Regions from separate parts of the Homo sapiens genome. Here region 2 is linked to region 1. The links come from fine-mapping of genetic effects on gene expression. A gene starts in region 1. The other region holds a variant in brackets. All regions are shown on one strand. Distances are between the middles of the regions. Region 1 holds the start of ZNF276 (zinc finger protein 276). Region 2 overlaps FANCA (FA complementation group A).

Evidence for each region. PIP is the estimated chance that this variant, and not a neighbour inherited with it, causes the effect.
Region 2: its variant is the best candidate, but not a certain one, in a credible set for the expression of ZNF276 in visceral fat (GTEx, PIP 0.61).

Annotation. Positions count from the first base shown.
Region 1 is chr16:89,718,637-89,724,144 of GRCh38, forward strand. It overlaps ZNF276 (zinc finger protein 276), which reads left to right and starts at 2,901. Exons shown (of 11, transcript NM_001113525.2): 1 at 2,901-3,209; 2 at 3,895-4,198; 3 at 4,501-4,547; 4 at 4,624-5,073. The coding sequence starts at 3,005. It overlaps VPS9D1 (VPS9 domain containing 1), which reads right to left and starts at 2,262. Exons shown (of 15, transcript NM_004913.3): 1 at 2,127-2,262; 2 at 391-466. The coding sequence starts at 2,225. RefSeq lists an enhancer at 474-643, a cis regulatory region at 559 and silencers at 1,869-2,988, 3,069-3,528.
Region 2 is chr16:89,743,691-89,748,690 of GRCh38, forward strand. FANCA (FA complementation group A) reads right to left here. Exons shown (of 43, transcript NM_000135.4): 33 at 4,969-5,000; 34 at 3,141-3,200; 35 at 2,894-2,998; 36 at 1,269-1,381. Among named protein-coding and RNA genes, the nearest start is that of ZNF276, 25 kb to the left of the region's middle. RefSeq lists enhancers at 445-614, 3,011-3,180. The variant CTG/C (reference allele first, on the strand shown) is at 2,753.

The sequences.
Region 1 (5,508 bases):
CCCATCAAGGGCTAGGATGCCCACAATTTGTCCAGCATGGAGGAAGCAGCAGGGCTCAGCCATGCCTTTTTCTTTTTCTTTTCTTTTTTTTTTTTTTGAGACGGAGTTTCGCTCTTGTTCCAGGCTGGAGTACAATGGGGTGATCTCGGCTCACTGCAACCTCTGCTCCCGGGTTCAAGCAATTCTCCTGCCTCAGCCTCCCGAGTAGCTGGGACTACAGACACCCGCCACCAGGCCCAGCTGATTTTTTAGATTTTTAGTAGAGACGGGGTTTCACCATGTTAGCCAGGATGGTTTCGATCTCCTGACCTCAGGTGATAGCCCGCCTCTGCCTCCCACAGTGCTGGGATTACAGGCGTGAGCCACCGCGCCCGGCTGGCTGAGCCGTACCTTTAGTGGTTTCCACTTCTTCTAGTAACACCTGGGAGATATAGTGGATGCTCCTCAGGTATTCCGTGTATGCCTCCTGTGTCCAGGAAAGAGAAAGAGTGGGGTCAGGCCAGTGGAGGGAAGTGACTCCATTATTCCGGCCAGGTGCCCTTGTGGGATAAGCAAGGAACACCACCACCTGCTTATCTCTGAGATACACCCAGAGACATTGAGCCTGCGGTGGTTAGCTGCAGCCGGAACACGGTTTTCTGCGCAGGGCACAGGCAGCATCGCTGCTCTCCAGACTTGGAAAAGACATCAGGACCTGAGAGAGAGAGAGAGCCAGGGACGAGCTGGACCTCATTTTCTCCTCTGACTGCCTTTCTCTCCAGCACAGGAACTGATATTCTCATTCAGTGGGCCTGGGGAAGTGACCTCAGCAGTTTGCTGTCATTTTTCATTCTATGCAATGTTTCCTTCTTGTGCAACTCAAGGGTGATTCATTCAGTGGCTTAAAAAAATACTTTTCTGAGAGGATAAAGGGAGTGATACTGGAAGTTTTCAAATCACTTCCCGGTTTAAGTTCCGAGAAATCCCTTTCCCAGAACCTGCGAGTTACGTATTTCCAGTGCACACAGGAGCCTAGAACTGTTACCTTTCAAGGCTGTGTGACCCCTCTGACAAGGCACAGGTCATTGGAACCACAGAATGGTGGTTTGTTTTGTTTTGTTGAGACAGAGTCTCACTCTGTCGCCCAGGCTGGAGTGCAGTGGCAGGATCTCGAGTCACTGCAACCTCCGCCTCCTGGGTTCAAGTGATTCTCATCCCTCAGCCTCCCAAGGAGCTAGGATTACAGGTGTGCACCGCCACACCCAGCTAATTTTTGTATTTTTAGTAGAGACGGGGTTTCACCACGTTGGCCAGGCTGGTCTCAAACTCCTCACCTCAGGTGATCCACCGCCTGGGCCTCCCAAAGTGTCAGGATTACAGGCGTGAACCACAGCGCCCAGCAATATGCTATGTTTTTTTGTTTTATCCCTAGCTGTTAAGTTTCCTATCTTTAAGTCTATGCCTCAGAGAGAAAGACGAAATATAATCCAGGCAGGATTTCTGACTTGCGGGGGCACCTGCTGCCCTAAAAACCAACTTGGGGAAAGCAGCAGATTCAGGAACGAGGCTTCTCCTAGGCACAGGCAGGCTCCTTCCCTCCTTGGGCAGCCGGGTGTGGCTGGGCCAGCTTCTCTACCTGGTCGCCAACCTTAGATTCGGCCCCATCTCAGGAACGGGCCACACCCCTCCGGCCTGCTTTTCCTTCCTAAGACGACTGCAAACAGCATCACAAATGAGCAGGTATGTGGCCTTCTCTGCATGCCGTCCCCTGTGGCAACCGGATTAAATCTACCATCTCTGCCCAGAAAAATGCACGAACGCACGGACCTGCCCGTCACTCGGATTTTGGAAGGTGGCCTGGCGGACCCTCCTGCTACATCTCCTCTACAGGTGGAGCCCAGGCTGTGATGCACCGGCTCAGCGAGCGGAGTGGAAAGCCAAGGTCCGCAGGATCTGAGCTGTCCAAGGTCACTGCACGCCCGGCTGCGCCCCGCCCCCGTCCTCGCCCGGGAACCGCGGCCCGGGATCCCGGCTGGCGCCCGCTCCCAAGTCTCCAGCCCGAGCCGGCCCCGTCCTCGCCCTCCCCGGGCGGGGGTCCCTCCAGGGGCCACCCTCAGCGGCCAAGCCCCGCCCCCGCCCCGCCTCACCCGGGGCCGGTTGCCGGTGTCCAGCTCGATGGCCCCGTTGGCAAGCTTCATGGCGCTCTGCAGCGGCTTCACCGTGCCGTCCCCGGCCGCAGCGGCCATGGCGCCGAGCGGGGGAGGCGGCGGCGGTAGCCGAGGGGCTGGACGGGCGACCGGAGGCCCGGAACGCAGCCGGCGCTGGTGCTGGAGCCGCCCGAGCAGCGGACCGCAGGAAGGGACGCGGCCGCACTTCCGGCGACGGGCCCCCTCCGCGCGTACTGCGGGCCCCACGGGTGTTAGTGGCGGGGGCGGCAGAGTCCGGGTGGGTTGTCGCGACGGAGCCGGGCCTCTTCGCCGTCTTGAGACGGGGCTGGCGAGAAGGGCCCCTCACGGAGTTGCCATGGGCGTCTAACCGCGGCAGCCAGGCCCCTCTCTACGTGAGACCCCGGCCCCCCTCCCCTTTCTGCAGCCCGCCCGCCACCTGCGCGCCGCGTGGCCTCCGCCGGCGCCTGCCCGCCCCGCGCCTCCGTCTCCCACGGTAAGAGGCGGTGAGGGCCGCGTCGCCTCTCCCTGGAGGACTCGTCGTGAGGTGTCGGCGAGCCCCTCCGCCCACCGCCCCGCCCCAGGCCAGCGCTCCATTGGCGACAGAGGCGGGCACGGCCGCCCTCGGGCCCGAGAGGGGAGCGGTACGAGCGGGGGCGCTGGCACCGCGGGTGGAACCTCGGCCGGCGGGGTCCCGCCCCTGGCCCCTGGCCCGCCCCGCCCGCCTCGCTTTGCTTCTCGCTCCGCCCCTCCCCCGCCCCGCCTCGCTTCCAGCGCGCCGAGCGGAGCCTAACGCCGGGTCCTCTAGGAACCTCGGGCCGGGCAGCACCCGCGGGATTCTGCTGGCGTCCTCCGCTGCCATGAAGCGGGACCGGCTGGGCCGCTTCCTGTCTCCTGGGTCGTCCCGACAGTGCGGGGCCTCGGACGGCGGCGGCGGCGTCAGCCGGACTCGGGGCCGCCCTTCCCTTAGCGGTGGGCCGAGGGTGGACGGGGCGACGGCGCGGCGCGCCTGGGGCCCGGTGGGGTCCTGCGGGGACGCGGGCGAGGACGGCGCGGACGAGGCAGGTGGGTCCGCGGCCCGGGCGTGGCGGGTTGGGGTCGCGGCAGGGGTTGCTCGTGGGAGGAGCCGCACTGACGCCCGGAAGCCGGCGCGGCCTCTCCTCCACCCGGCCAAGGGCGTAGCGGACTCGGGGCTGCGTCGGGATAGGCGCTGGGCGGCCGGCTCGGTTTTCCTCGCGCTCCGTGACGCCGGCGTCGCCGGCCCGGCCTCCCCGGCCGCGGGCTCGGCCAGAAGGGACCCGGCGTGAGGAGCGCTGTCACCGCGGGCAGGTCGCCCTGGGGTGCCCGCGCGTGGGAATCGCCCTCCCCTGCTTCGTGCCCTCGCGGAGCCGGAAAGGAGGCGGCACCTGCAATTGGCAGACAGGAAACCGCGGCGTTTCCTGGAGGGCGCAGCGCCTGCCCCGGGTCTCGCGGTCGCTGGGAGGAGGGTGCAGTTCCAGGTTTCACTCTTGAAGTTGCTTCGCTGGAGAGGCCTTAGAGGCCTTTGAAATTTGAAAGATTTCTTGGACCAGCGGCCACATCCCCCACAGGGCGGCTTGTCCCGCCGAGAGCCGCGCGCCCGAGCCGCTTGCTGTGTCCGGGAGCCGCGCGAAGGGCGCTGCAGGCGCTGCCCTCGGACCTGGAGTCCGGGACGCCCTGTGCTCAGGAGCCTCCTTTGCCAGCTGCTAACACTTCCTGCCGCTCTGTGCAGGAGCAGGCCGGGCTCTCGCCATGGGTCACTGTCGCCTCTGCCACGGGAAGTTTTCCTCGAGAAGCCTGCGCAGCATCTCCGAGAGGGCGCCTGGAGCGAGCATGGAGAGGCCATCCGCAGAGGAGCGCGTGCTCGTACGGGACTTCCAGCGCCTGCTTGGTGTGGCTGTCCGCCAGGACCCCACCTTGTCTCCGTTTGTCTGCAAGAGCTGCCACGCCCAGTTCTACCAGTGCCACAGCCTTCTCAAGTCCTTCCTGCAGAGGGTCAACGCCTCCCCGGCTGGTCGCCGGAAGCCTTGTGCAAAGTACGCCCTAGTCTGTTCAGAGCACGTTCAGGCTGTCAGTACTGCAGTGTGACGGGTGTTGAGAGAGGGACAGGGCGTGCCTCCGCGGGAGCCTCTGGGTGGGGGGAATGGGCCATGCCCGGGTTCAGTGCCAACAGCCCTGGGACTGTTGTGGAGAGATGAACTGGGAGGAGCTGGGGTGAGGGAAGAGAAAGTTGCCTATGGGGACCGCTGAGGTTTGAGATCTCGAGAGGGTCCCGTACGACGAGCGCTGTGAACCTCCGCCTGCTTGTCCTGCTCATGGCCACACTGATCCTTTGCAGGGTCGGTGCCCAGCCCCCAACAGGGGCAGAGGAGGGAGCGTGTCTGGGTGAGTCCTCCCCCGGTGGAGGGTGGGCTGGGTGCCGACCAGCCGTGGATCTGACATCTCTGTTGACTCTCTGCAGTGGATCTGATCACATCCAGCCCCCAGTGCCTGCACGGCTTGGTGGGGTGGGTGCATGGACATGCGGCCAGCTGCGGGGCCCTGCCCCACCTTCAGAGGACACTGTCCTCCGAGTACTGCGGCGTCATCCAGGTCGTGTGGGGCTGCGACCAGGGCCACGACTACACCATGGATACCAGCTCCAGCTGCAAGGCCTTCTTGCTGGACAGTGCGCTGGCAGTCAAGTGGCCATGGGACAAAGAGACGGCGCCACGGCTGCCCCAGCACCGAGGGTGGAACCCTGGGGATGCCCCTCAGACCTCCCAGGGTAGAGGGACAGGGACCCCAGTTGGGGCTGAGACCAAGACCCTGCCCAGCACGGATGTGGCCCAGCCTCCTTCGGACAGCGACGCGGTGGGGCCCAGGTCGGGCTTCCCACCTCAGCCAAGCCTGCCCCTTTGCAGGGCCCCAGGTAGGAGGCACCTCTTGCTGGTGCTAGACCAGGATGTGTGCTCCTCAGTGGGGCAGGGTTTTCAGCAGAAAGTGAATGTCTCCACTGCTCTAGGTGGTGGCTGGGGTGTGGTGTGAGAAGGAGCAGAGCTTGGGGCTTCTGCCTGCGGCTGCTCACCACATCCAGAGAGCAGGGAGGGGCGGCCAGCCTGTCTCCGCCTCTTGCTCCTCTGTGAGCAGGGCTCTGTTCCAGCAGTTTCTGTGGAGACACGCTCATCAGCCGTCGAGTCTTTTTCTAAGCCTGTGCTTGGGGCTGAGGGGACTGAGGAAGAGGGAAGAATAGGGCCTTGTCTGTGGATGTGGGAGAAAAGAATGGCCGTTGCCTCTGCGGCTGCTGCCCTGGGCCAGCTGCAGGTCATTTCCTGGCACTCAGCCAGCCGCCTGGTGACACCCTGGT
Region 2 (5,000 bases), 25 kb after region 1:
CTCACGCCTGTAATCCCAGCTACTCAGGAGACTGAGGCAGGAGGATCGCTTGAACCTGGGAGGCGGAGGTCATGGTGAGCCGAGATCGTGCCATCTCACTCTAGGGTGGGTGACAAGAGTGAAACTCTGTCTCAAACAAAACAAAACAAAAAACAAAACTTCAGACAATCTGATCTGTGTTTGTAGAATTAGAACTGGAGGTGTGACCTGCTTTCTCCTTTTTTGAGATGGAGTTTCTCTCTCATTGCCCATGCTGGACTACAATGGCATGATCTCGGCTCACTGCAACCTCCACCTCCTGGGTTCAAGCAATTCTCCTGCCTCAGCCTCCTGAGTAGCTGGGACTACAGGCGCACACTATCACACCCAGCTCATTTCTGTATTTTCAGTAGAGATTGTTTCACATGTTGGCCAGGCTGGTCTCAAACTCCTGACCTCAGGTGATCCACCTGCCTTGGCCTCCCAAAGTGCTGGGATTACAGGTGTGCGCCACCGCGCCGGGGCCCTCTTCTCTTCTTTCAGCAGACGGCGAGCAGCCAAACCCTGAGGGGACCCGGTGTGGCATCAGTGATTCAAAACTAGTCACAAAGTAAGGTGTTCTCCAAGGAGGCAGGATGGGTACTAGCAGTGCCCTCTGACGACCCCTTAAGAACACGGCACCCACATTCAGCAGGTGGAGTGGCTGTCAGCTCTGTGGTCCTCAGAAGGGTGTGTGAGCCTGGATTGCGCCAGGAGCTTGATGGTTTGCAAGGACCCGTGAATATCTGACTGGGGTCGACAGGTCAGGGTAGGCTGAGAATCTGCATCCCTGAGGTCCCCATGACACTGACCCTACCAGCACGCGGTGCACTCTAGGAGCCCACATTAGATTTAAGAGGAAGGGGAGCAGGTGCAAAGGAATCACTCGAGCTCCTCACTCAGACGGGAGCCTGGGAGAGGCCGTTCCTCACTCAGACGAGACACTGGCAGAGGCTGTTTTTTTTTTTGTTTTTTTTCTGGACAGAGTCTTGCTCTATTGGCCGTTGGAGTGATCTCGGCTCACTGGAAACTCCACCTCCTGGGTTCAACTGATTCTCCTGCCTCGGCCTCCCCAGTAGTTGGGATTACAGGCGCCCACCACCACGAGAACTCGGTTCTTTTCTCCCTGCTCACACGAGAGGCTGCCCACACCGCTTCTCTCAAGCAAGCCAGGGTGTTTAGGAGATGACCTTGAGCAGGTCCCGAAGTGCATCTGGGCGGGCACACCCCATCTCACCACCCACACGTACTCGCTGGCAAACTGCCGGCCTTCTTGTAGCTTCTGCAGTTCCCGGGGCAGCGGGCTCTGGCAGTGTCTCCTCCACCGGCAGAGCAGCACAGGCTCCAGGCTCGGCCACCACACCTATGGAGAGAGCACCAGCACACAGATGAGGGTGGCTGAGATGGACACACCTCCGCTGCCCCAGCCATGACAAGCCCCCAGTGCTCCTACAGGCCACTACAGGCCCACACTCGCCCTGCGCTCTGGAACTCCAAAGCCAGTATTTTTTACGTCAATTAAGGCTCAAAGCAGTTCCATGAGGCATTTATTACCCACACTCATGGAAGACGTGGAATTTGGAGAAGGAAGAGCCTGGCCTAACGCAACAGTGAAGGGACCACACTCCCCTGAGCTGGGAACGAAACAGTGAAGGGACCACAGTCCCCTGAGCTGGGAATGAAACAGTGAAGGGACCACACTCCTCTGAGCTGGGAACAAAACAGTGAAGGGACCACACTCCTCTGAGCTGGGAACAAAACAGTGAAGGGACCACACTCCTCTGAGCTGGGAACGAAACAGTGAAGGGACCACACTGCCCTGAGCTGGGAACGAAACAGTGAAGGGACCACACTCCTCTGAGCTGGGAACAAAACAGTGAAGGGACCACACTGCCCTGAGCTGGGAACGAAACAGTGAAGGGACCACACTCCTCTGAGCTGGGAACAAAACAGTGAAGGGACCACACTGCCCTGAGCTGGGAACAAAACAGTGAAGGGACCACACTCCTCTGAGCTGGGAACAAAACAGTGAAGGGACCACACTGCCCTGAGCTGGGAACGAAACAGTGAAGGGACCACACTCCTCTGAGCTGGGAACGAAACAGTGAAGAGACCACACTGCCCTGAGCTGGGAATGCCTGGTCCTTGGATGCCCTCAGCTGAGAGGTGGCGTTCTAAACACCGAAGAGTTCATTTCTCACGAATTCCACCAACTGAGCTACAACTCGGTGCAAATGCAGCCTGCTTGGGGAGCTCCCTGGGGAACATGCCGTGCTGCGGAGAAAAAGGCCCTCCTGTCCCTGATGACCGAGAAGGAAGGGCGACAGCTGTGGTCTTCAGGACTAAGTGAGCCGCCAGGGAAGTGAGGGAAATGCTGCCCTCCTCCCACTCTCGGGACCCTGGGCTGCTAGGGGAGCCTGCTGAGCTCTGGCGGGAGCTGAGGTGAAGTCTCTGCTCCGAAGTCCCAAGAAAGCATAGTCAGGCGCAAGTGGGCCACAGTCATGCTCTCGTGACGGGGCACAGGCAGCCACCGTACAGCCTCCAGCCAGTGCACAACCCAAGACCGTGAACAAACAAGCCCTGCACCCCTGTGGACATGAAGGTGCCCGTGGGGTCTGAGTGGGGTCCACAGGGGAGAAGTCCTGCGGGTGCCATGGTGACGGCGGTGGGGGCAGGGACGGTTCTGGGAACTCAGGATGTGCGGCCCTCATCTGCTATGAGCTGGCATCTTTAA[CTG/C]TGGCTTCCATGTCTCCTGATGCATTTTCCCTGAGATGGTAACACCCGTGATGGAGACGTGCTGCAGAGATGCCAGAGGCAGCTGTGGAGTCTCCCACTCATCCCCAAAACAAAACACCAAACAAGACAGCTGACCCACCAGAGCAGAGGTCAAAATTAAGGGGCATTTCGTCTGGCACTTGGCCAGTATGAAGTCGACCATCAGGGAGGGGTCTCTGCTCCGCAGACAGGCGTTCAGGAGGCCCTGCAGGAGAGAACGCAGCAGGAGGTCAGCGGTTTGTGAGGACCCACAACTAGTAGAGTGAAGGAACTCACAGGAAGCTGACAGGAGGATCCACCCACGGCGTTCTGAGAAGGCCACGAGAGGGGCTGAGGGAGCATCTCACCCTGAAGAAGTGGGCAGTGATGTCCTGTGTCAGGGCACCTCCGTGGGAGCAGAAGTTTCTCTGCAAAAGAGTTCAAGGCAGGTAAGAAAAGCCCACAGGAAGAGAGGCGAGACCAACATGCAGAGTGGCTGCTGTGGATTCAGTTTTGAGAAAAACACTCGCTAAGGCTTGGCGTGGCCACCATGGATGGTGCTCCTGGGCTGACCGGGCCTGGCGCCCTGGCTGTGCTGTCCTGAAACTTAACGGCTTCCCTGGGCGGCCAGATCCTGCAGCCCACCAGCTCTGGCCCAAACAGTCTTGTAGGCTCCAGGAAGAAGCCAGGGAGGCACAAGCAGCCGCAGGGAAGGGGACGCACCCGGAGCGTAGAACTGTGGTGAGGACGACACTAATACCAAGGGCCAACCATCCTCTGGTCCCTTCACTAACCAAGTGCTGTCTATGGTGTTTTCCTGTCTGTCGGCTGTCACGTGCCAACTGAGAGCTTTCTGAAAAACAGCCATTCATAAGAATTCAAAGGAGACCATAGTGATTTTCTGAAAGCTTTTGCTAGTCTCACGTCCTCTGCTTTCCTTGTCACATTTTGAAGTGCTGCACAAGGCCGGGCTCACACCTGTAATCCCAGCACTTTGGGAGGCCAAGGCGGGTGGATCACGAGGTCAGGAGTTCAAGACCAGACTGACCAACATGGTAAAACGTCATCTCTACTAAAAATACAAAACTTAGCCGGTCATGGCGGCAGGCACCTGTAGTCCCAGCTACTCAGGAGGCTGAGGCAGGAGAATCGCTTGAACCTGGGAGGCGGAGGTTGCAGGGTGAGCCAAGATTTCACTGCTGCACTCCAGCCTGGGCGACAGAGCAAGACTCTGTCTCAAAAAATAAATAAATAAATAAATAAATAAAAATATAAAATGCTGCACAGCTGGCATGGAACCTGAATTCCATCTCTCACATTTGTGCATCTTCAAAAACAAGAAAAAGGCCTTCGGGAGCAGAAGCTGCTCTCTGTAGAGTGGGAGGGGCTGGTATCCGTCTCCCCAGCTCTGACCAACTGGGTCCCTACGCTGCCCGTCCCCACAGCGAGTGTCACTTCTTTTTATTTGAGACAAGAGTTTCGCTCTGTCACCCAGGCTGGAGTGTAGTGGTGGGATCTTGGCTCAGTGCAACTCTGCCTCCTGGGCTCAATTACTCCTCCTGACCCAGCCTCTCAAGTAGGTGGGAGTACAGGCGTGCACCACCATACCCAGCTAATTTTTCTATTTTTTGTAGAAACAGGGTTTTGTCATGTTGCCCAGGCTGGTCTCGAACTCCTGGGCTCAAGTGATCCCCCACCTTTCCAGAGTGCTGGGATTACGGGCGTGAGCCACCGCACCCAGCCTGCTGGTTAAGATCACCCTGCAACTCACGCTGGGCAGTGTCTAAAATGGAAGATAACTGGGCTGCCTGGCAGGCAACAGCGGTAGTCAGATCACCACAAGGCTTTTTTTACACATGAAGCATGTTGAGATTAGAAATAAATGAACCGAGGTGCGTGGCACACAAAATGGTCTGTACGATTCCATGTGTCAAAATCATTAAAACTTGAGGGAAACTAAAGGAACTCAAACTTGGGAGAAGGCAACCTACAGCTGGTTTGGTGATGTGCTGGTCGCCGTCCTGGCTGTGGGTGGGGTCCTCCCTCACATGGCATTCCAGACACTGTTCCCTATTTGACTTTGAACCCTTTCCTCAGTAATTCACACGGTCAGTACACGCATGGAGGCTGCAAGAGCTGCTGTTAGCGCCACAGGCACTGACAGATCGGACGGACACGTGCACACGGGGCACCTACCATCTCAGAGTTGACCAAGTGGAAGAACTGCT